3 separate regions of the Homo sapiens genome follow, and all the other regions are linked to region 1. The links come from fine-mapping of genetic effects on gene expression. A gene starts in region 1. Each other region holds a variant in brackets. All regions are shown on one strand. Distances are from middle to middle.

The links.
Region 2: its variant is fine-mapped to the expression of UBE2Q2 in NK cells (Gilchrist 2021, PIP 0.95).
Region 3: its variant is fine-mapped to the expression of UBE2Q2 in blood mononuclear cells (TOPMed, PIP above 0.99). The same link has a PIP of 0.9 or more in whole blood.

What each region holds. Positions count from the first base shown.
Region 1 is chr15:75,839,679-75,847,933 of GRCh38, reverse strand. It overlaps UBE2Q2 (ubiquitin conjugating enzyme E2 Q2), which reads right to left and starts at 4,487. Exons shown (of 13, transcript NM_173469.4): 1 at 4,088-4,487. The coding sequence starts at 4,267. RefSeq lists silencers at 3,677-4,076, 4,327-4,406, 4,547-4,686, 4,727-4,906 and an enhancer at 3,508-4,405.
Region 2 is chr15:75,716,197-75,724,451 of GRCh38, reverse strand. It overlaps CIMAP1C (ciliary microtubule associated protein 1C), which reads right to left and starts at 411. Exons shown (of 4, transcript NM_175881.5): 1 at 135-411. The coding sequence starts at 252. RefSeq lists an enhancer at 172-341. The variant T/AT (reference allele first, on the strand shown) is at 4,824.
Region 3 is chr15:75,872,854-75,881,108 of GRCh38, reverse strand. It overlaps UBE2Q2 (ubiquitin conjugating enzyme E2 Q2), which reads right to left. Exons shown (of 13, transcript NM_173469.4): 5 at 7,541-7,681; 6 at 4,838-4,922; 7 at 3,088-3,148; 8 at 1,921-2,011. Among named protein-coding and RNA genes, the nearest start is that of FBXO22, 27 kb to the left of the region's middle. The variant G/A (reference allele first, on the strand shown) is at 4,225.

The DNA.
Region 1 (8,255 bases):
AAACAAAGTCCCACTAAAAGCAGCCTAGCAAACAGCCACTTATACGCAGAAAGGGTAATCATTTATGCTCTACAAGTAATATAAAAAATGAAGTTTCATTTGTTTACTAGCTAATTTACTTCCTGGGGGAGATTTTTCATTCTAAAACAGTGATTTCCTACCAAGAATGCCCAGATGCCAAAAAGTCCATAAAAGGAGTAATGGAGTTGCCAAGTTATGTTAAATACTTCAAAACGACTAAAGCCATATACTAGCTCCCAATAAGGCTGCTTAAAACAAGCTGCTTTGCATTTCGGTGTGATTGTAACAACTAATTAGACGGCAATCAGGTTAGTTTACTGAAGATGGAAAAACTATACTTAAGTTTGTATAACAGGCAATCTTTCATATCATGGCTTCACAGAAAAGAATAAAAAGGACTCGAGGTTGAAAAAGAGCACTCTTTTCCCTTCATTATTTAAGATCAGGACAAATTTATAAAACAGGAAAAGAATTAGCTCAATTCCCTTGGCCTACAGAGTAAAACATCTACTCTGTTTTGGTCTTTTTCACTTCTTACACTCTCATATGAAGTCAATTTACAGACTTCCATCAAGCCCTTAGAGACCTTTTTGTACTATCCATGACAAGTTATTGATGTTATCTCTGCACTTTTGACAAATTCTTAGCAGTTAACTTACAAGGCAGTTAAGATTTTTGTTCAAATACAATACAGCTAGAATAGCGCTATATACTCAAATATTTATGAAGCATTTATTGAGTGGAAGATAAAAAGCACAAAGCATAATTATAAAATATTCTCCCCTGCCACCATAAAAAGAAAAATTTAAAGGCTTACAGAATACAGCATAAGAAAACATGACCAAAGCAAAAATAGTAAGGACTAAAGAAGGGAGGAAGGGGAAATAACAGCATGAACTAAATATGACCCAGAAGAGCCTTGACGGATGGTCAGGCATATAAAGACAAATGGGGTAAGGTTAAGGGGTGGAGGTCAGGGGCACATTCTACAGGGAGAAATACAGCTGATACAGAAACCTGAAAGGAAAAGCCAGCAGAGCACCTGTACAGGACTCTTCAGGAACTAGCATGCACGTGTGTAAAAAACAACTTAGTTTCTCAAACATTAGAGAAACTGCATAAGGATGTTTCTTGGTAAGTATAAAGAAAACAAGTCCTAGCATGTAGAATTCAAATATTTGAACTGTCTAAAGAGGAAAAGTTAAAGAATAAGTCAAACTCATTACCTTTTCCAGAGTTACAACTTTAGAGAATAACAAATCATCGATCAAACCAAATCATTTGAAATCCAACCCCATTTTTCCCTTGATCTTTCCCTTCTAAGCAAATGGTATCGACATGAACAAGCCATGTCATTTTATCAAAACAGTCATCCATGTTTAAAAGAGTCTTTACGGCCAGGAACGGTGGCTCACTCCTGTAATCCCAGCACTTTGGGAGCTTGAGGTGGAGTTCAAGACCAGCCTGGCCAACATGGTGAAACCCCGTCTCTACTAAAAACACAAAAATTAGCCGGGTGTGGCGGCGGAAACCTGTAATCCCAGCTACTCGGGAGGCGGTGGCAGCAGAATTGCTTGAACCTGGGAGGCGGAGGTTGCAGTGGGCCCAGGTCACACCACTGCACTCCAGCTGGGACGACACAGCGAGACTCCGTCTCAAAAAATAATAATAAAAAATAAAAGAGTCTTTTACCTTCAAAAGATACAAGCAGAAATATTTACAGATGAAGTGATCTGTCTGGAATCTGCTTCAAAATAATCTAAAGTGGAGTACAGATGAAGATTAGCCAAAAGTTTATCATTGTTGAGGCTGGCTACATTACACTGTTCAACTTTTGTACATTTGATGATTTTCCATAATAAAAAGTTAGCAGACATTTGTACTGAGCAGCTGCCATGATAATTATCTCCTGATAGTCTGTCATATTTCACTAGCAAGTCAATTTTAATAGTTTCTACCTAGCGGTGGGTGCCATTACACTAGTCCTCACTAAATCCTCCTTGTACTGAAAGTGTCTCATTCACTTCTTGCTCCATTTCTGTTGCCACTGCCTAATCCAGGTCATCACTCCTTATTTTTATCTGCAGCAGACTCTTACCAGCCTTCAATATGGTTCTCGATGGGGCACCAGTGGCACTTTAGGTGGGATAATTCTTTGCTGTGGCAGACTGCCTGAACGTTGCAAAACATTTGGTATCCCTGTACTCCTAGCACTAAATGCCGGCACAGCAATAAGACCACCCCACCCCCACTGGGATAACCACATTTCCTAATGCCACCCACTGTAGAGAACCATTTCTAATCCTGGATGAAAGATACATTCTCCCAACTTACCTGAGTAAACTTAGTAGCTCCCCACAGCCTACAAATTCAGTCTCCTATCATTCAAACCAGCCCTACCTTTTCGTGGCCATGCCCCAACTTCTACCAGAGTAATCACCCTCGAAGCCATTCAGGCCCGTCTCCTTAAAACACCTGCTTCATGACAACTACTACACTTTCTGTTTTCCACTCTTGGAAAATCCTCCCCTTCTCCAGCCTGTATCGTGGGCTTCTCAAGTCTTAGCATAAATTTTCTACTTCTAAGGAAACCACACTTTCTCAAATCTCCGTGTCTTCTTTGGGTGGAGTTTCCTCAGTCTAAAATGCCCTTCCGCCAGCCTTCCAAAATTGTAGTCACCTGTGGAAGCTCATCTCTAACTGTCTCAGCCTCTCATCAAAGCCTTCCCTGAAGCGCACCTCCCCCAAGTCAAAATTAGTTGCTTTGGCTTTCCTGATGATACCACAGGAGCTGTCACCTTATTGAACTCTTCCCCCAAGAAGACTGAGTTCTGAGAGCGAGGACGACTTCACTCAATTCTGCAACACTAGTGCCCAGAACACTCAGACGTATTCATTCAATAAATGAATTATCTCCTCAGTACAGCACTTGTCTTTTTTTTTTTGAAATTAACACACCTTCTGCCCAGATAGTCTGGTAACCATTTTAAGGTCAATTATAACATCAAGGTTTTTGCAAACGCCAGCCACCCTGCAGGCACTTGAGTACCCACTGACTCAACCAAAGGGAGTTAAAAACAAGACTTGGTTTTAGCCATGTTTGAAAAGGAGCCCGAAGCCACCACCTTGACGCCTATTATAACCAAGAGAATATTCTGCAGTTTGGACCAATATCCTACATCAATTTCACGACGAATAGCTTCACGATACACTTTTATGGAGAAACTTAATACTTCAATTCCTTTACCAAGCCTTGGGTTTCTAATGAGATTTCCGCTTAATGAGTGAGTTTTTAAAAGTGTCTTTTCGGCTTTGTGACATACGTGATCTTTCCGGGGAGCAGCCCTGGCGCGTATCTCCTTTCACCTATCCATTTTCGAGGCTTACACACAAGGGAGGGGCCACACGAATACACACTCAACACCACCTGCCGCAACGACGGTACTATGCTCCTTTCCAGAACACAGCAGCGCGCAGCCAGGCCCGGGGGAGAGGGGTCGCTCAAACAGCACCAGAGTCTGCATTCCAACTTTTCCTCCGTCAACGAGTCCATTCTCATTGTCAGTTTCTCCTTAAACGCAAACTTAAAAACAATTGGCTGAACAAGCGGGAAGAAGGAAAATCCGACTGAAAAATGAGGCGTTAAAACTTAAGGGCCGTTCCCCTTGCCGGCCTGGGCTCAAACAACAGCCGGAGCTGCGCCGCCCCGCCCCGCCCCGCCCCGGTCCCGGGAGCAGGCCGGCTGAGGGCGGCCATGGACCCCACAAGGGCTTGGGCCGCCGCGGACTCCCCCCTCGGGGCTAGGAGACGGGGACCGAGATGGGCCAGAAGCCCCCAAGCCAGCCCCTGGCGAGAAGCCGGAAAGACGCGCCCTCCGCCTCCTCCCACCCAAGCCTCGCGCAGTCCCAGCCCGGCCTGGGATGGGCAAGTCGCGGGGGAAAGGGGCGGGCCTGCCCCGCCCGGGGAGCCGGAGCCTCTCCGGGGCAGGCTCCCCTTTGTCCCGGGACTCGAAGCGCCCCCTCTCCGTCCTCGCCCTGCCCCGCGGGGCCGCGGCCGGGCGCCTCACCGTGATGTTGCAGTGGAGCGTGAGTGGCGGCGGCAGCGAGTGCGGGCTGCCCTGCTGCGGCACCAGGAACTGGCAGTGCAGCTCGTCCAGCTTCCAACTGACGATGCGGAATCGCTCGTGGTTCTTGTCGAAGATGGACGCCAGGAACTTCAGCTCGGCCTTGAGCCCTGACACGGACATCTTCCCCTCATCTCCGGCGGGAGGGGCGCGGAAGGGGAGCCGGGCGCGGAAGGGGAGCCGGGCCCGGAGCCGCCGTCACGGCCGCGACCGCCCCGCGGGGCCGGCCTGGGCCGCGCTCTCGCGGCTCCGCCTCGTCGAGCGCTGCTGGAAAATGGCGAGGGGCGCGGAAGCCTCGGCGTGTGGCGGCCTGGGTGGCGCTTCCTTTGTAACCGACTCCAGCGGCAGGAGGCGGCGGCCCCGCGGCTTAAAAGGGCAACAGCGACGCCGCCCCCGCTACCGCCTGGGAAAGGGCTGCCCCCACCCCGCCCCCGTCCCCCTCACCCTGGCGCGCCCTGCGCGCTCCGGTTTCAGCGCGTGCACGAGGCCAGAGCGCGCGCGCCCGGCCGCCCCCTCCTCGCCTTGACCCAGCTCCCTTGTTCCCGACCCATCTGCTCCGTTCTTCGCACCCGCGGACTGGAGGCTCGGGGCCAGCTGGCGCCCGGGCCCCAGAAGTCGGGGAGGAGCCGGAGACCCCCGCGCGCCCCCGCCCCCGGCCTGGAGCCGGACACGTGCGTGGCGGATCGCGCCGGCCACGTCGGCGCCGCTGCAGACTAGCGCCAGCCCCTGGGGGCGGCTCCTCAGCTTGGCGCTCGGCGCGGCACCCGCTAACCTCACTGGGGGGACCTCGTGGGAGACGCGGGTGCGGCTCACCCAGCGTTACCTCCGCTACTTTCACCCTAGTCCGAGCCACCGCTTCGCTAGCCTGGGTTCCTGTGAGGACCTTCTCACCAGCCTGGGTTCCTGTGAGGACCTTCTCACCGGACTCGCTGCTCCCGCCTTTGCTCTCAAACCATCCATTTACCCAAGACGATGGTTTAGCCCCTGGAGGCTGTTGCCTGGAGGTGTCCCATGATTTCATCCCTTCCCTTAGCTACCACCTGTGTTCACTCTGCCGTATATAGTCTCTCTCTCCCCCCTTTCCTTATTTTGCCTTGTTTCCCAAGCTTAAGATAACCCTCCCCACCCACACCCCCATGGAGCTAGGGCTGCCCACTATTTTCACTAAACTCATAGCTCAAATATCATCTCCGGCACCCCCCACCACAACCCATTTCAAATAGTCACCCTGTGTCACATCGTCCTGTGCTAAGTTTTTGTTGGGCACCTGTCACTATCTGATCTTTAACCCATTTATTCCTTGTCTCTGCCCCGTGTTAATGTGTTCAGAGCTGTATCCCCAGGACCTAGAACAAGACCTGTTATATAGTAGAAACCCGATATGATTGAATTGAATGCTCGCTCTTATCTGGAATCCCCACCACTAGCACAATTCCTGGCACATTGTAGGTGCTCAAAAAATGAATAAAGGTCTGGATAGCAGTCCAAAGGAATACATCCCAATTTGGCAGACAATAGTGTGTGCAATCGTAAGTGCAAGAGGCAGGACCAGCTGCATATGCGTCCAACCTATGTAGTTGCACAGTGCTCCCAGCTTAGAAGGGCTTCGAGCTTGGTTTAATATTCTGGTGTCGCCATTTTGAAATTCGTAATTTTTCAGAAAGGGGCTCCGCATTTTCCTTTTCCAGTCTTACCTAGAGTTACCCAACCCTGACACCTGTCTCTTTCTTCCTAATCTACAAGAGATCCCTGGGCTACTGGTCCCCTTAGATGACAAAATACAGAACAACACAGGGACACATTAAGTCTACTGAAAGTTTTTATTTCCATCTACTTCTGAGATTTTGTATCATGTTATAGTCCTTAGCCTTTAAGAAGACAAATAAACTTTTCCAATTTACCTCAGTAAGTTAGTAGCTCCCCACAGCCTACAAATTCAGTCTCTTATCATTCAAACCAGCCCTAACTTTTCCTGGCCATGCCCCAACTTCTACCATCTTCTACCCCAACTTCTATCTAGCCTTTAAGAAGACTAAGATTCTCACAGACCCCTTTGAGAATCTAATAAAAGCTATGATCCATCTTCCCAGGAAAATACTTCTGCATCTAAAATTTTGTACTTATGGGGATTCATGACCCCAGCACTAGAGCTACCACACTATACACTGGGACTGGGAGAAGAAGGGGTTCCAGGCCTGGGTTCTGAGCCAGAAACAACTAGGCTACTGTATTAGCATTATTGCTGGGTTAAGCACAGAAGTGGCTTGCCACTTTATTTTTCCTTCAGTCCCCAGTTTCTTGGGACCCTAACAGGCATGGCATTCCCAGATAAGGATTTGAGACAAAGAGCAACAAACTCTTGAGAAGTTGGTATGACTTCGAGAAACAAAATTCCCTAAACAAGCTATTTAATCTGTCTAAGCTTTATTTTGTTACCTCTAGATTGCTGTGAGAAAATAGAGCTTTTTAAATTGCAAGTGTTTTTACTAGTTGTATCCCAGAAATATATACAAATATTAATTTCACAGTCGCTTTTTGAGCATCCATCTGCTGCATGCCAAGCTGTAAGAGGGCTAGAAAGATACATAGATACAGTCCCTGATTTTAAGAAGCTTAACATTTAGCATCAAAAACAAAATATTGTTTCCTGATGCTTTTGGCTGCAAATAATAGAAAACTGTGATTTAATCTGCCTTGGACAATAAGGAAATAAATTACTTCACATAATAGGAAGTCCAAAGACAGAACAGTCTCCAGGATTGGTTGACCTGAGCTTTCATGTCATCAAAAGTCCAAATTCTTTCCATCTCTTTTGTTGGGTTGAGAGCAAGGTGGCTGTAGCTGTTCTTGCAGTTCACATCCAGACATGAAAATATCCAGAGGCAGAAAGGACATTTTCTTCTATGTTTCCTTCTAACACATGGGAAGCTTTCCAAGAATCTTCCCAGCAGACTTCCCTTAGTGTGTCCTTGGCCAGAAGTGTGTCACATGCCCACCCCTAACCAATCACAGAGAAGTAGATGGGATTACTCTGGATTTCCAACCTGCTGGGATGGAATGGTTGCTGGGGAGTCACCATAGTCTTACACAGACAAGTAAAGACAACATCAGATCATATGTGATATGAGGTTCAAACTACTGAACTACATTTCAGGGGAGGAAGAAACTAATTCCATGAATTATTTGCATGAAAGTAGGGCCATATTCAGAGGATATTCAAGAGCCCATTTGATTGTAGAGTACAGCAAGGGGCCAAGAGAAAGATAAAGTTGAGATATTACTTTTGATCAGATTTTGAGCCCTGAAATACCATGCCACAGACTATAGTATAATAGTTTCATTTGGTGAGAGGCATCACTTTTTTTTTTTTTTCGAGATGGAGTCTCGCTCTGTCACCAGGCTGGAGTGCAGTGGCACAATCTCAGCTCACTGTAGCCTCTGCCTCCTGGGTTCAAGTGATTCTCCTGCCTCAGCTTCCCGAGTAGCTGGGACTACAGGCATGCACCACCGTGTCCAGCTAATTTTTGTATTTTCACTAGAGACAGCGTTTCACTATGTTAGCCAGGATGGTCTCGATCTCCTGACCTCATGATCTGCCCGCTTTGGCCTCCCAAAATTCTGGGATTACAGGCGTGAGCCACCGCGCCTGGACAAAAGTCATCACTTTTTTTTTCTTTTTTTTTTTTTTGAGATGGATTCTCGCTCTGTCGCCCAGGCTGGAGTGCAGTAGCACGATCTTGGCTCACTGCAAGCTCTGCCTCCCGGGTTCATGCCGTTCTCCTGCCTCAACCTCCCAAGTAGCTGGGACTACAGGTGCCCGCCACCACGCCCAGCTAATTTTTTGTATTTTTAGTAGAGACAGGGTTTCACTGGAGTAATCACTTTTAAGATTAATCTGGGCCAGGTACAGTGGCTCATACCTGTAATCCCAGCACTCTGGGAGGCTGAGGCAGACGGATTGCTTGAGTCCAGGAGTTCGAGACCAGCCTGGCCAACATGGCGAAAACCCATCTCTACTAAAAATACAAAAAATTAACAAGGCATGGTGGCACGTGCCTGTAGTCCAGCTACTCGGGGGGTGAGGTGGGAGAATCACCGGAGCCCAGGGGGT
Region 2 (8,255 bases), 120 kb after region 1:
GTGAGGGTCAGCTTGGAGGCTCAGGTCTTCTGTAAGGCTTCAAGGAAGTTGGAAGGGGCTTTGCAGGAGGCAGGCTGGAAGGAGTCCTGGAGAGAGGGGAGGGGGCCCAAGCCCAGGGTGGGGATGGCTCTCACCTTTGATCTTGGCCATGATGACAGGGGTCTGCTTGACCTCCTGCCTTGAGGGCAATGGCTCCTTTTCTGGGTGCTGTGCAAAGTACACAGAGCTCCTGGTCCCCTTGGGCAGTTTCATGGCTGGGGCTGGGCAGGGAGCAGCAGCAGCTACAGCAGGGTCTAAACAGCAGTCAAGGGGCTAGAGTATCCCTGCCTGAGACCCCCCCATCCCCCACCCCAGACACGGAGGAAGCTGGGAAGGAAGACAGTTCTCCAGCTTGAGCAGCTAAGGCTGTCTGGGGCACAGTCAGCACAGGCCCCAGCAGGCTGGAGCTGGAGATGACGTCACGGCAGAGCTTGGACTGTGAAACTCGTAGTGTTTATTTCCCCTGGTTGCCATGGCGCCTGAACTGCGGCGTGGAAATTCTATGCTGGGAGCTTAGTTATGGAACCCTGACTATCCCACTGTCCCCCATCACCAACCAGGCCAAGTGGCCTGGGGGTCCCCAGGACCCTGGGTCAGGGAAGGGAAATGGAGAGATGGTGTTACGTATCAGCTAGCGCTTCACTCCCAGTGGGTGCCCTAAGGTTGGGGAAAGGAATGGAAAGGGTTGGTGGGTCACGGGTGAAGGGTTTGTGCAGCACACACAGCCCCCTGGGGGCTCTCTACCCCCTGCCTCTCCCACCTACCTCCCAGGCTCTGGACATGCCCTCTCTTCTGTCAAGTCTATTTTTCCCCTGGCAAAATATCAAGTCAATTATCACTAAGGTGTGACTGTCTGATAGCTCCTCCCCAGAATCCTATCCCAGGGTGTGGTATCTTTAGAGATCCATGTCTAGCTCAATGGATACAAAAAGGAGTGGGAAGCAAATAAAGGAGGACAGAGGGGTGGTGCTGAGCCTTCAAGGGGCTGCTTCCTGTGCCTGTGACCAAGAGCACTCCCTTGGCAGGGGAGCAGTTGGAGTTGGAGGGCGGTATGAGAGGACACATAGAAGGGGAGGGAAGGCAGCCAGCCCCATCTGACGGATGGATGAGCCCCAGGCCTGAAAACATGCTGGGAACCTCTTCATTCCTAAGAACCCAGGAGGCTTTTGGGGGCCTGGGGCCTGTCACCTCCACTGTTCGTAACAGACTAGGGATTTGACCTGAACCGGGTCAGCGGTGTCCATCTCAGGAACCAGATGACTGCTGGCTTTAGACAGGGGTGTCTGTCACCACCCCAGTACACAGTTAAGAAAACTGAGGCCCGGAAAGGAACAAGGACTTGCCCAAAGTCTCCTACTACATCAAAATAGCAGAGATGGAACCAGGACACAAAACCCAGGGCTCTCCTTGGATCATAGTCTCTGATTGAATAGAAACCAAGCCATGCTCTGAACGCATTCCAGTCAGCAGGCACAGCGAGGGCTCAGAGCAGCAGGTAGGACAGGCATGCAGGGTGTCCAGAAGCCCCTGAGGGACCACAGGCCTCAGAACAGAGGACAGGGGCCCAGTCCCCCCAGCAGCAGACCCTGTGTGCCCCCATATGCCCATGGGGCAAGTAAACCTCTGATTTCTGGGTAAGGGAGGGCTGAGCCAGGCTGGGGGGTGACCCAGCCTCACTGGCCTCAGGCCAGGGCCAATGCTATGTCCTCAGCCCCATCCGCGTCAGCTTTTCCTGTAGGAAGCTGCGAGCCCTGATGGTATCCCAGTGCTGAGAGGGGCCGGATCTGGGGCTGGGACCCCCACCTTCCTGGTGAGCGGGCAGTCTCCAAGTATTTCAGGCCCGGGGAGCCTCCTGCCTTCCTCCCTCACTGCTTCTGCCCCATCATCCTGGTGCACAGCTCTTCAGGAAACTAGGCCACCCCGCACCCCAGCAGGTCACAAGCCACTCCAATTTGTTCCAAATGCTTCCTTTCCTCCAGCTCTGATGGAGACCCAGCTCACCCCTGGAGGTGGCCCTCGGCCCTGTCCAAAGCTGGCTGCTCCGACATTCACATCCCTCATGCCTCAGAGTCCACAGTGCCGTGGGTCTCTGGCTGCCTTGGTCCCCAGACTGTGCCCTCCCCATCAAATGCCCCATTCCTCTGGGGCACTGGCATCCAGGTGTGTCCCCCTTCAGCTCCTCAGGGCTGCCCTGGGTCCCTACTCATAAACCTAGCAGCCGTGGCTCGAGGCCACCTCCACCCCACCCCAACTCCTGCCATGACCCTGATAGCTCAGGCCTCCCCAGGGACCACCACCAATGCCCTGGCCTCCCCGTTCCCAGACCTCCTCATGTGCAAACACCTCCACTCCACTCCCTCACAGGCCGGTCCCCCACTGCAATCCTGGGCTTCTCACCACCTCCCACAGCACTGACAGCCAGTCTCTCTGGGAGGCCATCCCCTGCCCCCCATCTCTGAGACCCCAGTGCTGACCCTGCACTCCCTGCACTTCTGCGTCATCCTTCAGGCCCCTCCAGCTTTCACCACCCTCCTCATCCAGCCCCTTTCCTGGAACATCCCAGCACTGCGTCCCCCAGGTCTGCGTTGTCCATCTGCATCAGGCAGCTAAAGCTGTCAGGACAGTCTCATGGCCAGAACCTTGGACCTGCCCTCCTCGCCACCTGCCACCCACCCCCACCTCTGGGCAGCCTGCCCTCCCCCTCTCCCCCACCCCCAGGGATCATCCCCTGCATGGCTCACTCTCCTCTGTTCGCCTGGCCATCCTTCCGGCCCCCCCATCCACCTGCCCCATCAGGCTGGGCTCTGACGAGTACCCCCCATCACAGCCTCAGAACCGCCATGTCTTTTGTCATCGGCTCCCACGTCCCGCCTGGGACACTGTGGATTGCACCCCTCTCCTTGGACTTGCGCCTCTCATCTGGCTCCCTCCTGTCACACTCTAGATATCCTAAGTCCCCTCTATCTATTCAAACTGTCCCCCAAGCCCACATGCTTCTCCGTCACTGCCTGTCCCTCTCTGCCCAGCCCACAGACCACCTTCCCCACAGAGGTGTTTTCCAGTCATCTCCATTCTCACCTCCCTCTCACACTTGACTCAGCCTGAGTTGGCTCCAGGCCCACTGCTCCACCCGAAAGAGGCTTAACTCGACGCCCGCCACCTGCAGGTGGCAGCTGCTTCCAAGGGACACTCTTCATCCTCTAATGCAATAAATGCCAGCCCTGCCTCACTCATGCTGCCCCTCCTGCTGGCTCCAGGACGCCCTCCTTCTTTCCTTCTGTCTCTCGGCTGCCCCTGCACTGGCTTTCTTCCTGGCTTCCTTCCTTCCTCAACCTGACCTTTCAATGTTGGCGTATGCTTATTCATTGCAAAGGGGAAACAGTAACTTTATAGAAGAGAGGCCTGGCAGGCATCACCTCAACCAAGTGATACGAGTCAACATCCCAATGATTGCACAATAGATGTGTGCCTCTTGGTTTTGTTTGTTTGGTTTTTTTGTGGGGGATTTTTGGGGGAGACAGAGTCTTTTGCTCTGTCACCCAGGCTAGAGTGCAGTGGCGTGATCTCAGCTCACTATGACCTCTGCCTCCTGGGTTCAAGCAATTCTCCTGCCTCAGCCTCCTGAATAACTGGGATTAGGGGAGCCTGCTACCATGCCCAGCTAATTTTTGTATTTTTAGGAGAGGCAGGGTTTCACCATGTTGGCCAGGCTGGTCTCGAACTCCTGACCTCAAGTAATCTGCCCTCCTTGGCCTCCCAAAGCGCTGGGATTGCAGGTGTAAGCCACCACGCCCAGCCAGTTATGTGTCTTTTGATAGGCTGCGTGAGAAGGGCACGGCATCACTTCCTAGGCATTCCTGCCACAATACAGAACCTGAATTTAATCATGAGGAAAACAGACAAACTCAAACCAAAATTCACCTAAAAGAACTGGCCTGTACTTGTCAAAAATGGCAACATCATGGAAGACAATGAAACGCTGAAGAACCATGCAAGATGAATAGACACTCAGAAGAAAGCCGAGGTTTTCTTTTGTTATAAAGGATATTTTTGGGAAAATTGGCAAAGCTGGGGAGAAAAAAGTCTATGGCTTAGTTCAAAGTATTGTACCAATGTTAATTTCCTGGTTTTGATCATTGCACTCCAGTTATGAAAGAGAAGGTCCTGTTCTAGGAAATACTGCTTGAGCCCAGGAGATCGAGACCAGCCTGGACAACACAGTGGGACCCTGTCACTACCAAAAAAGAAAAAAAAAAATAGCCAGGCACGGTGGTGTGTGCCTGTAATCCCATCTACTCAAGCAGGAAGCTCCCTTGAGTCCAGAAGTTTGATGGTGTGGTGAGCTCTGATGGCACCACTGCAGTCCAGCCTGGGCAGCAGAGCGAGACCCTGTCTCATTTTAAAAAAAAAATTAAAAAAGAGGAAAAACTCACTGAAATATTTAGGAATAAAGGAGCATTATGTCTGCAACTTACTTTCAAATGGTTCAGAAAAATAGAGAGAGAGATGGCCGGGTGTGGTGGCTCATGCTTGTAATCCCAGCACTTTGGGAGGCCGAGGCGGGCAAATTACGAGGTCAGGAGATAGAGACCACCCTGGCTAACACAGTAAAACCCCATCTCTGCTAAAAATACAAAAAATTGGCCAGGTGCGGTGGCTCACGCCTGTAATCCCAGCACTTTGGGAGGCCAAGGCAGGCGGATCACAAGGTCAGGAGATCGAGACCATCCTGGCTAACAAGGTGAAACCCTGTCTCTACTAAAAATACAAAAAAAAAAAAAAAA[T/AT]TAGCCGGGCGTGGTGGCGGGCGCCTGTAGTCCCAGCTACTCGGGAGGCTGAGGCAAGAGAATGGCGTGAACCCAGGAGGCGGAGCTTGCAGTGAGCCAAGATGGGGCCACTGCACTGTACTCAAGCCTGGGCGACAGAGCAACACTCCATCTCCAAAAAAAAAAAAAAAAAAAAAAAAAAATACAAAAAATTAGCTGGGCTTGGTGGCACGTGCCTGTGGTCCCAGCTACTCGGGAAGCTGAGGCAGGAGAATCGCTTGAACCTGGGAGGCAGAGGTTGCAGTGAGCTGAGAATGCACCACTGTACTCCAGCCTGGAAACAGTGAGACTCCATCTAAAAAAAAAAAAAGAGAGAGAGAGAGAAAAGAATTTAAAATGTGGTAAACAATTAACATTTGGGAAATCTAGGTGGAGTATGTGGGAAACATTTGTAATCATCTTGCCACTTTTATCTAAGTCTGAAATTATGTCAAAATAAACATTTTAAGGAAGAGACGTTGGTGTCTCAGGGCTCAGTGCTGGGTCTTCCTCCCATTTTGCACCGCGCTCCTCTCTCCCGGGCAGCCTCATCTCCTCTGGTTGCTTTAATTCCCTTATCGATACCCCAGCAATCCGGAAGTAAAACTTCCCCTGACTAGACCTTCTTAGGAGCATTAGGCTCACATATACAGCCGCCTGCACAGTGTCACCTGGGTTTCTCACAAGCACCTTGAAATCAACATGCCCCAAGATTTCCTTATGAGATACCCCCCAGTCCCTGTCCATCTCAATCCATGACACCACCACCCACCCTTCTAAGTGCCCAAGCCAGAAACCTAGGCTTGTCCTGGACACCTCCCTTATCCCAACTCCCACATCCAACCAATTGCCAAGTCACTTTGGGGAGCCTGTCAGTTCCCCAAAACCAGGGTCCTGTTTATTCACCTGTGTCCCCAGCCCTCAGCATCAGCATAGTGCCTGACATATGATCTGTGCTTAAGAAATATTTGTTGAATGAATGAATTTGTTGATCAAGGAATGTCACTTCTTTTCATGGAAGCAGAGTCCTGCTTTCTGAGCCCCAGGCACGTGCCAGGTCTGACTCACTGGACTGCCATCTACGATGTGCTGGCTTCTATCAGTAATCTCTTGCTGCATAACAAATTACTTTCAAAATATAATTGCTTGAAACAGCAACTTCCTTCTGTTGCACACAGTTGCTGTGGGTCAGGAGTTTAAAAGTGACTTTGCTGGGTGGTTTTGGCTCCAGGTCTCTCAGGAGGTGGCAGTCAAGGTGTCAGTAGAGGTCAGGCACGGTGGCTCATGCCTGTAATCCCAGCACTTTGGGAGGCCAAGGCGGGTGGATCACTTGAGGTTAGTAGTTCAAGACCACCCTGACCAATATGGTGAAACCCCGTCTCTACTAAAAATACAAAAATTAGCTGGACATGGTGGTGCATGCCTGTAATCCCAGCTACTCGAGAGGGTGAGGCAGGAGAATCACTTGAATCCGGGAGGCAGAGGTTGCAGTGAACCAAGATCACACCACTGCACTCCAGCCTGGGCAACAAAGCTAGGTTCCATCTTAAAAAAAAAAAAAAAAAAAAAAAGTAGAGGTTGTATTAATCTTAAGATTTGATTAGGGTTGGCAGATCCACTTCCAAGATGGCTCATTCACATGAGTGGTGAGTTGATACTGGCTGCTGGCAAGAGGCTTCAGTTCCTCTCCACATTGGCACCTCCACAGTCTACTTAATTATCCTCAGATCATGGTGGCTGCAATCAGAAGAGAGCAAGGGAAAAGCTACCATATCTTTTCTGACCTCATCTTGGACGTCACTTCATCATTTCTGCAACACCCTATTGGCTGCATAAGGTGGCTGTATTCAACATGAGAGGGAGCTACCCAAGGGCATGAATGCCAGAAGGTGAGGCTCACTGAGGGCCATCTTGGAGCCTGGCTACCACTAGGCTTTTCACTGTGCAAGGACAAGAGCCAATGGGGCCAGTAGGGGCTGAACTCCAAGCTGGGTATTCTTGTATAGGGTGGTGTCCCCACTAAAGCTCCACACAGGCTAACAGCAGCCCCGCCAGCTTGCTCCAGCTGTCTCTTGGTTGTCAGTCTTGCCTCTCCTCCAAGGGACTCGGGGGAGTCACAGACAGCAGGACCCTGGCATAAAAATCATCATAACCACCAGGCACTTCAGAGTTTATAAAGCTCCGGCGCTTCTGTTGGAGGCCATCATCCAAGCACCTCGGTGGCTGTACATTTTACGGATGAGGAAAGGGGTACAGAAAGGCGAAGTGACTTGTCTGGGGCCACATAAAAAAAGGCTTGGCAGGACCGGGCTCCTGGCTCCTGACCCCACATTCTTTCCACTGCCCTGCCCAGTGGCCAGCTCAGACCCACATCCCCTGACATCTACTGCAAGCCTCATTCCCAGCCCTAAGCAGGTATTTCTCACCCTCCTTCTGGGAGCCCCAACCCAGCCCTCAAGCAAATATACTCACAAATTTTTCATCCAGGTGGGGACTGTCCACTCTACTTCCAAGAGGCTCTGTCTGCAGGCAGCCGGCTGTCCACTGGGGCCGCACAGCAAGGGTTAACAGCAGGAACTAATATTTAGAAACAGCACTACCCCAGAGGAGTCAGCTGTGGCCAGCTGGTCACAGCCACTGAAGCCACCAGCCTTTGTGAGTGTGATATGGAAGACGAGTGCCTGCTCCTGGAAAGCAAAGGCTCCAAGAGGGTCCTTCACCACCCCCGGCCCTTGTCCTCCCAGCACGGCTTGTGTGTGGCTCAGAGGCCAGGGCAAAGCCCTCCACTGGCCTCCCTTCCACAGCTGGCTCCTGAGAGTGGCAAACATAACTTTTCAGCTCCCGAACTGTGTAATTGTTGGGACTGGCTGCTCCCTCCCATCCTGAGCCTGGCTGCCTGTACTTGGAGGAGCCCTGTGTGTGCCTCTGCCAGAAGCAGGATCAGGACCACTCCTAACAGAGGCCCCAGGTCAAAGGCCCAGGCCCAGGGCCCGCTGCCATGGAGCTCTTGGCCAGAAAACTGCAGGGCCACTGAGCCAGCGCCTAAAGCCCGTGCCCTCTTGCACAGTAGTGGCCTAGGTTCTGTGACCTTCATGGCAGAGGGCCAATTCCCTGAGGGCGGGCCCTGGGCAGCAGGAGCACACCCCTGCTTAGGCACCACCCCATCTAGGGCACAGGCACACACCATTTCCCAGCAAGCTGGCTTTGGCCACAGGCTTCTTGGGTGGGGCCCAGGCAACGAGGGTGCAAAACACCCTGGCCAAGGGTGGGGCCAAACCACAGCCACTGCCCAGAGCGGGGACTCTTAGTCCAAGAAGCACTAGAGGTAGGAGTGACCAGCAGTGCTTGGCCAGCATGGTTGGGTGAACTCTGCTGGCAGGGAGGTGAGTATTACTGGGCCCTCTGTTGTCTTGT
Region 3 (8,255 bases), 33 kb before region 1:
ATATGAATTAGTAAAAATGTAGCCATTAGCAACTTCAGTCAATATATACCAGACTCATATTTTAGGAAGACAACCCAGTTGACAACCACAACAGTTTCTATAATAACAAAAGTGAGAGATAATACTGACATTTGGGTCACTTCAAGAAAGTTCAATCATAAGATATATCCCCAAGCAAAAACACACACATAAAAAAGCTACGTAAGAAGCTTTTAGAAAATTACTACCTTTTTTGTAAGTACAAAGGAAGTATTGCTTTTTCCATCAAAATATCTCATATATCCACAGATTTTAAACCATTACATCTCATCCAGATCCATATTAAATCACGCCTGTAATCCCAGCACTTTGGAAGGCCAAGGGAAGTGTACCATGAGGTCAGGAGTTCAAAACCAGCCTGGCCAAGATGGTGAAACCCCATCTCTACTAAAAATACAAAAATTATGCGGACATAGTGGCACATGCCTATAATCCCAGCTACTCGGGGGGCTGGGGCAGAGAACTGCTTAAACCCGGGAGGCAGAGGTTGCAGTGAGCCAAGATTGTGCCACCACACGCCAGCCTGGGCCACTGCACTCCAGCCTGGGCAACAGAGCAAGATTCTGTCTCAAAAAAAAAAAAAAATCATTAACATTTTTTCTAGATTCCATTGCTATTCTTTAACCATTATTTTTAGCATCTTTAAAATACTTATTAGGCCAGGTGTGGTGGCTCACACCTATAATCCCAGCACTTTGGGAGGCCGAGGCAGGCAGATCACCTGAGGTTAGGAATTCAAGACCAACCTGGCAAACATGGTGAAACCCCGTCTCTACTAAAAATAAAAAAATTAGCCGGGCATGGTGACATGCACCTGTAATCCCAGCTACTCAGGAGGCTGAGGCAGGAGAATCACTTGAACCTAGGAGGCAGAGGTTGCAGTGAGCCAAAACTGTGCCACTGAACTCCAGCCTGGGCAACAGAGCAAGACTCTGTCTCAAAAAACAAACAAACAAACAAAAAAAAACCTTATTAAATATAACACATAAATTCAGAAAAGTACATAAAATATAGAGATATACCTTAAGAAGCTATTGTAAATTATGTGCTCATGTAACCATCAACCTGGCCCAGAAATATATTCCAGCCAGTATCCAAGAAGCCTGCGCAGATATACCTTTCAGTTCACACCTCCCTACCTCCCACCTAGATGGACTCCTTACCCTAACCTGTATGTAATCACCTCTTTGTTCTTGGACAGTTTTCCTCTTTGGGCAGTTTTACTGCTCACGTATGAATCCATAAATAAGTGTTTCTCAGTTTTCTTTTCATTTTTGCCCCCCTAAGAAGCCTTTTTAGAAGTTTTCTTCCTAGTTTTACCCCCCTGCTCCATGGAATTTTAACACCATAGATAAATCGTATATCTGTTTATGTTCTGTGGCCCTTTGGAGGGCAGCAGACCATTTTAATAGCTAAGATTGTTTTCACTCTAAAGATCAGTTTTCACTACACTGCAGGTGATATTGCCTCCACTAAGAATGCATGCCCTAATCAACATTAGTTTTACCTATTTTTGAACTGTATATAAAGGGAATTGTACAAAATAGGTTTTGGAGTCCAGTCTCTTTTACAACTGTGTTCAAGATCCACCCATCTTGTCCCACATAGCTGTAAACCACTTTATAAACACCACAATTCTCCATTTTATTGGAATGAACACTTGGGTTTTCTATTTGGTGCTATTATAAACGATGCTGCTCTGAACATTCCTGTGTCTCCTGGTACGCCTAAGTACTCACGTCTTAACGGAGAATATGTCTACGAGATTCCTGAACCATAGGGTATGAGTATCTTCTACTTTACCAAATTGTTTTCCAAAGCACTTGTACAAATATACGCACCCCACTGGAAGTATATGGGGTCCTGTAACTATTTTCTTACCTTAAAAGAGAAGTTAAGCAAAATATATTCTATGCCTTCTTTTTCTTTTAAGATCTGAAGATCACTGTGCAAAGGACTATCAGGGTCAACCCTAAGAATTACAAAACAAAAAACAGTTCAAATAAAAAGTTAGAGATTTTTTTTTTTAACTAAACTCAAAAATGAACTAGTATGACAGCTAAAATAGAGCACCTAGGGCAAGTTCCAGAAAGAGAAGGTCTAAAGCTGCTCTGTATCACCAGGAAAAATAGAGGTCACCATAGGTTCCAGCTCCTTGGGAATAAATGTCCAAAAGAGACCATAATACTCTAAATCTAATCTAGTAAAGGAGTTCAGAGTTTGCAGTCACTCTAAAGGAAAATAGTCACATGAATATAATTTTCTCAAGAACTCAAAAAAAGTTTAGGAAAGCATATTAAACTTACATTATTAGCCAAAGGGTTCAAGGAGAAAAGTTTGCCATGGTCAGAACTATGAAAACTTAAATCACTAAAAAAACCTGTATTTGTCTACAACTGTCCTATATATACAGGTCTAATTTGAATCCCACCTCCCCCCAACTTTTTTTTTTTTTTTTTTTTTTTTTTTAAGAGACCGGGTGCCTCATTCTGTTGCCCAGGCTGGAATATAGTGATACGATCGTGACTCACTGCAGCCTTGATGTCTGGAGTGCAAGATCTTCCTGCCTCAGCCTCCCACCACCCCCAGTAGCTGGGACTACAGGTGTACTCCACCATGCCTGGCTAATTTTTTTTTTTTTGTAGAGATGAAGTCTTGCTATGTTGCCCAGGCTGGTCTCAAACTCCTGGGCTCAAGAGATCCTCTCACCTCAGTCTCCCAAAGTGCTGTATATATTTCAAATATAAACTGGTTATCACAGTCTCATGAAGTTATTAAATACACTTTTGTTTTTAAGTTCCCCTGCTCTAACTCCATAAAACACTTTATCCCGCAGCTGGTCCCTCTTTCTGTCCTTCCTCTTTCTCACTTTCTTATTAGACCTCAGCAACAGCTCATTTAAACAATCTAAGAACTATTTCTATAGAAACAAAGTCTAAAGTTCTAAGTAAAAGCCATAGTATAAAGGTATCAAGTTAGAAGGAAAATAACCTCCACTGTGATAGTCTACCATTGCAAAGAGTGGGTGAGCATTAAAAAGCCACTTACTTCTGCAGTTTAACATGCCAGTCATATAAACTGTCATTTATGAGTTCCACTGAATAAATCCCTGTTAAGATATAGAGCATGTTAGCTACTCTTCATTTCATCATATAACTATTACTATGGTATAAATGTATACACTAAATAGCCAACGAAAGCTAGAAATTTTGCTCTTAAAACATGGAACAACTAAGCTATATAGTAAATATTACACTACTGCAGCTGAGTATCTTATGCCCTTAACAGATAATTACAGCCATCAACTGAGAAGATTCTTTAATGAGTTGAAAAACTGCTTACCGTTTAGTCTGACTGAAAAAAAGATTATGCAAAATCATATGTACTTAAGACTTTTCTTCCATGAACACACATTTCTACAAAGATGGAATCCTTCTACGTATGTTGTTTTATAATCTCTCTTCAACTTTCAGGGACATCTTTCCAAGTTAGTATACATAAACCTATTCACAATCTTTTTAATGACTCTGTGGTAGTTTATTTTATGGATATGCTTTAACAAATTCCACCCAGTATCTGTTTTTTTTTTTCTATATAAACAATGCTGAAACAAATGATTATTTAACATTTAAAAATAAAACCAGTATTCAAATGTTTGTACTTTATTAGGTTTCTACAGATAAACTTTTAGACTTCTTACACAAAAAACCGTAAGGACACCCACAATTCTAACAACTCAGAAACAAGTTTGGCTTATCCTGCACACTACAAAGCAAGGATTTTTTCCTTGTTTTTATTCTTTAAGCAAATTCTAATTAATTTTGATTTGCTCACGCTAAGAATTCCTGAATCGGTCATAATGCTAGAATTGAATCGGTCATAACCCTTTTTTTTTTTTTTTTTTTTTTTTGACAGAGTCTCACTCTTGCTGCCCAGGCTGGAGTGCGGTGGTGCAATCTTGGCTCACTACAGCCTCTGCCTCCTGGGTTCAGGTGATTCTCCTGCCTCAGACCACTGAGTAGCTCGGATCACCAGGCGTGCGCCACCACACCCGGCTAATTTTTTATTTTTAGTAGAGATGGGGCTTCGCTCGCCATGTTGGCCAGGCTGGTCTTGAACTCTTGACCTCAGGTGAGCTGACCACCTTGGCCTCCCAAAGTGCAGGGATTATAAGTGTGAGCCACC[G/A]CACCCAACCAATGCTATCTTTTCAAATTAAAGTTTGGCTCATTATTTAATACTATTAGAATCTCCATAACAATATGAGAATTTTACCTCTAGTTAGAGAGGTTCCATAACATTCAAGTCATATTGAGTAAGAATACTCGTCAAACAAGGAAATGAAAACTTTAAAAACTTATATATTTTAAAGGTAATAACATAACTATCTTTACAATAAAAGCTGATTATCTTGCTTTCAAAAATGGGGGGGAATCATAAAAATCAACTTGGCAATTATTCTCTGTAAAATGAAATGTTTTACTCTTATTTACTTTCCAAGCAATATCGCTCATGCTTTCCCCAGAAGATAAAAATCATGTAAGAGTTCACTGTTTATCAAGAAGAGGACAAAATTCCAATGGACCTATAAAAACATTTTTTAAAAATCCAAAAGACAAGTAAACTCATCCTATTTTACTCCTACATCTTTTGGAACTTGATTGCATTTGAGTTTCACATTCCTGAAATAAAGCTAGTAAACATTTCCATTTCTGTCCAGTTTTAAGAAATGACATTTATAATCTGACAATAGAAAAGAGCAGAAGAATCATAAAGAGAGCAGGGATCCAGAGATCCTTACCTGTTTTATAACTCTGTGATCTGTATATGTCCCTGAGCTCTTTCATAAGTCTATCTGAAGCTTGCACTGACCCAGACACTGCACCCTGAAACACAAAAGCCACTGTTTACCAGGGTCTGCTGAGCTAAGATTTAAGATATTTCAACCTGATCTAAAAGATTACAGCAAAAATGGATCACCACTCAACATTTTTTTTTTTTTTTTTTGGAGATGGAGTCTAGCCCTGTTACCCAGGCTGGAGTGCAGTGGCGCAATCTCAGTTCACTGCAACCTCCGCCTCCCTGCTCAAGAGATTCTCCTGCCTCAGCCTCCCAAGTAGCTGAGACTACAGGTGCGCACCACCACGCCCAGCTAAATTTTGTATTTTTTTTTTTGGTAGAGACGGGATTTCACCATGTTGGCCAGGATGGTCTCAATCTCTTGACCTCGTGGTCTGCCTGCCTCGGCCTCCCAAAGTGCTGGGATTACAGGCATGAGCCACTGTGCCCAACCTCAACATTTTAAGAAGTAAAAAAAAGCCCAATTAAATGAAGCATTATGAAGTTTCAAGAGGATATTAAAACTAGGCACAAGTCTAGTTCATTTCCTATTTCTTCTCATGTGAAAAAGTCTAGCCAACATGTCCAGACCACCATGGATTCCACAATAACAAAGAATTCAGTATGAGTCTATTCCAAACCCCAGCAATTTTTGAAAATACTAGAAGACACTCAAGGTGACACATTATTTACTAAAATAGAGTTCCATTCATAAGACTACAAACAAGAATATTACACAGATGGTCTAGTTCGCACATTAAGACACTGAGAAACATCTGCCTACATGCGACTGGTTTCAGTTTTTCAGTGCAGGGACATCTCTAAAGATGAAAACACATCAATATCTTATCATAAGACTAAATACAAACGGAACTATTTTTTGGTCACGTGAAATTAAAGATTTTAAACATTGCACTATACTTTGAAGGGGGGAAAAATCAAGTTTCCTAGCTCATTTCATATCTACAAAATATGAGAAGTTTTTCCTATCTCTAAAATATGAAGCATACCTATTTCACACGGTGGCTATGAAGACTAAATGTGAAGATATGTGAAGTATAAAGTACTTGGCATAGTATCCATCATGCAAAAGTGTTCAGTAACTTATAGTTGTTTTGACTATAACTCAAACTGGAATCGATCACAAGACATAAAGTACAGTCATCATTAATTCAAATGACAAACTTTGTTTTTTAAGTAATCAAGATATGGGGGCTTGACTAAATTTCTTTGCTCTACTAAAAATTATAAATTAGATTAATATATAAATTAGACTGAAGGAGGGAGAGTAATCTACCTGTTTTCAACATTTGGCATCTACTTACCTAACAATTCATTCCCTGTTTTGGGGAACCTGTGCCCAAGACAAAGTAACTGCTACTCAGATTTCACGGAGTTGGTCAATAGCTCTAACACAAGGCAAAAAGTAGTAAGTGTTCAGACAATCATTTGATGTTTCCCTACTCTGAGCATTTTATATATATACACACATCATTTTCATTTATTTTTGATAGCAATCATCCAAAAGGTATGTACTGTCTAGCCATATTTTAGAGCTGAGGAAAGTGAAACCATAAATTGTGTGTTTGTCACCAGACTCAGTGTTCTTTTCACATCCTGCTGCTTCACGTAAAAGAGATATTAAGTTGTGGCCGGACACAGTGGCTCACACCTGTAATCCCAGCACTTCGGGAGGCCAAGGCAGGTGGATCACTTGAAGTCGGGAGTTCAAGACCAGCCTGGCCAACATGGTGAAACCCTGTCTCTACTAAAAATACAAAAATTAGCCAGGTGTGGTGGTGTACACCTATAATCCCAGCTGCACAGGAGGGTGAGGCAGGAGAACTGCTTGAACCTGGGAGGTGGAAGCTGCAGTGAGCTGAGATCATGCCACCACACTCCAGCCCGGGAGACAGAGCGTAACTTCATCCAAAAAAAAAAAAAAAAGGATGTTAAGTCAAAAGAGAAAAATTACTTTTGGTTGGGTCAGAGCAGGACAGACCAAAGTCAGCTTCACGAAGGAGAAAGAACTTGAATTGTATTTTGTCGGAGAGGATGAATTTGAATATACAGATCCCATGAGAGGAAGGTAAGCAGAGAAAACAGCATAAACAGGCCGGGAAGGGGCAAATACAGGGATCAGCAGGTGGTTCCAGGATATGAAGAGCAGATGAACAGGGTAAAAAGTGGCTATCTATAGATAAGAAACGTAATCTACAGCAACAAAACATATGACTAAGGCTAGGCACGGTGGCTCATGCCTGTAATCCCAGTAGTTTCGGAGGCCAAGATGGGAGGATGACTTGAACTCAGGTGTTCAAGACCAGCCTGGGCAACAGAGAGTCCTCATCTCTACTAAAAATAAAAAAAACTAGCCTGGCATGGTGGCATGTGCCTATAGTCCAAGCTACTTGGGAGGCTGAGGCAGCAGGATTACTGGAGCCTGAGAGATCAAGGCTACTACACTGAACTATGATTGTGCCACTGCACTCTAGCCTAGGCGACAGAGCAAGACCCTGTTTTAAAACACACATGACTGAATCCACCACTAAGGCAGAAATGGAGGAAGAGGGCAGCTGAGATGGGCATGTTAATGAATTGCCTGGTATTAACTACAATTATTTAACCACAAAAGTCCAGGTTCTAGATATCTACACACACTTACATTTAAATGGTCTTGCCTTTGAGTCTTCCTAATTTTCTCTAATATTGCCAAATTTTCTTTTTCAATTCCTTCATCCTCTGACTTTTTCCCACTAATAGGCTCTTCTTCCTTCATCTCATAGTGATCTAAGTCTTCTATATCCTACAAAGAGACGAAAAATGTTAGCTTATTCAACCTATTTTTCTTCAGCAGTTTCTTATGCCAAAATAACATTAAATTATTCTTGACTCAAATGAGGAACAAGAAACAAAATGTAACTATCCTATAGGGAGAGAGAAAAAGCCCCCACATTCCATTCAAGAGGCTCCCACCTTTTATATCCTATATTTTATTTAAAATCTAGACTCTGGGTAAAGCAGATTTAAAAGCTTTACAAAATCATAACTATTACCAAATAAGCCATCTTCTAAATCTCCTATTAAGAGGAACCTTTAAAACAGTTTAGCAGCAGGTGTCAAGAACCTTAAGTGTTCCTAGTTTGTTCCAGAAACTCAACTTCTAGAATTGTATTCTAAGAAACTAGTTTAAACTATAAACACTAATTTAGGCATAAGGATACCTATTTCAACCTTGCAGCCACAAAAATAAACACAAAATCTGCATGTGCAAAATAGCAAAATATTAAGAGGCCACTGAAATACTAACATAGCCTAATTTCTCCTGTAACGAAAAACTTTAAAATGAAAAACAATACAAAAAAGAATAGAAAGAATTT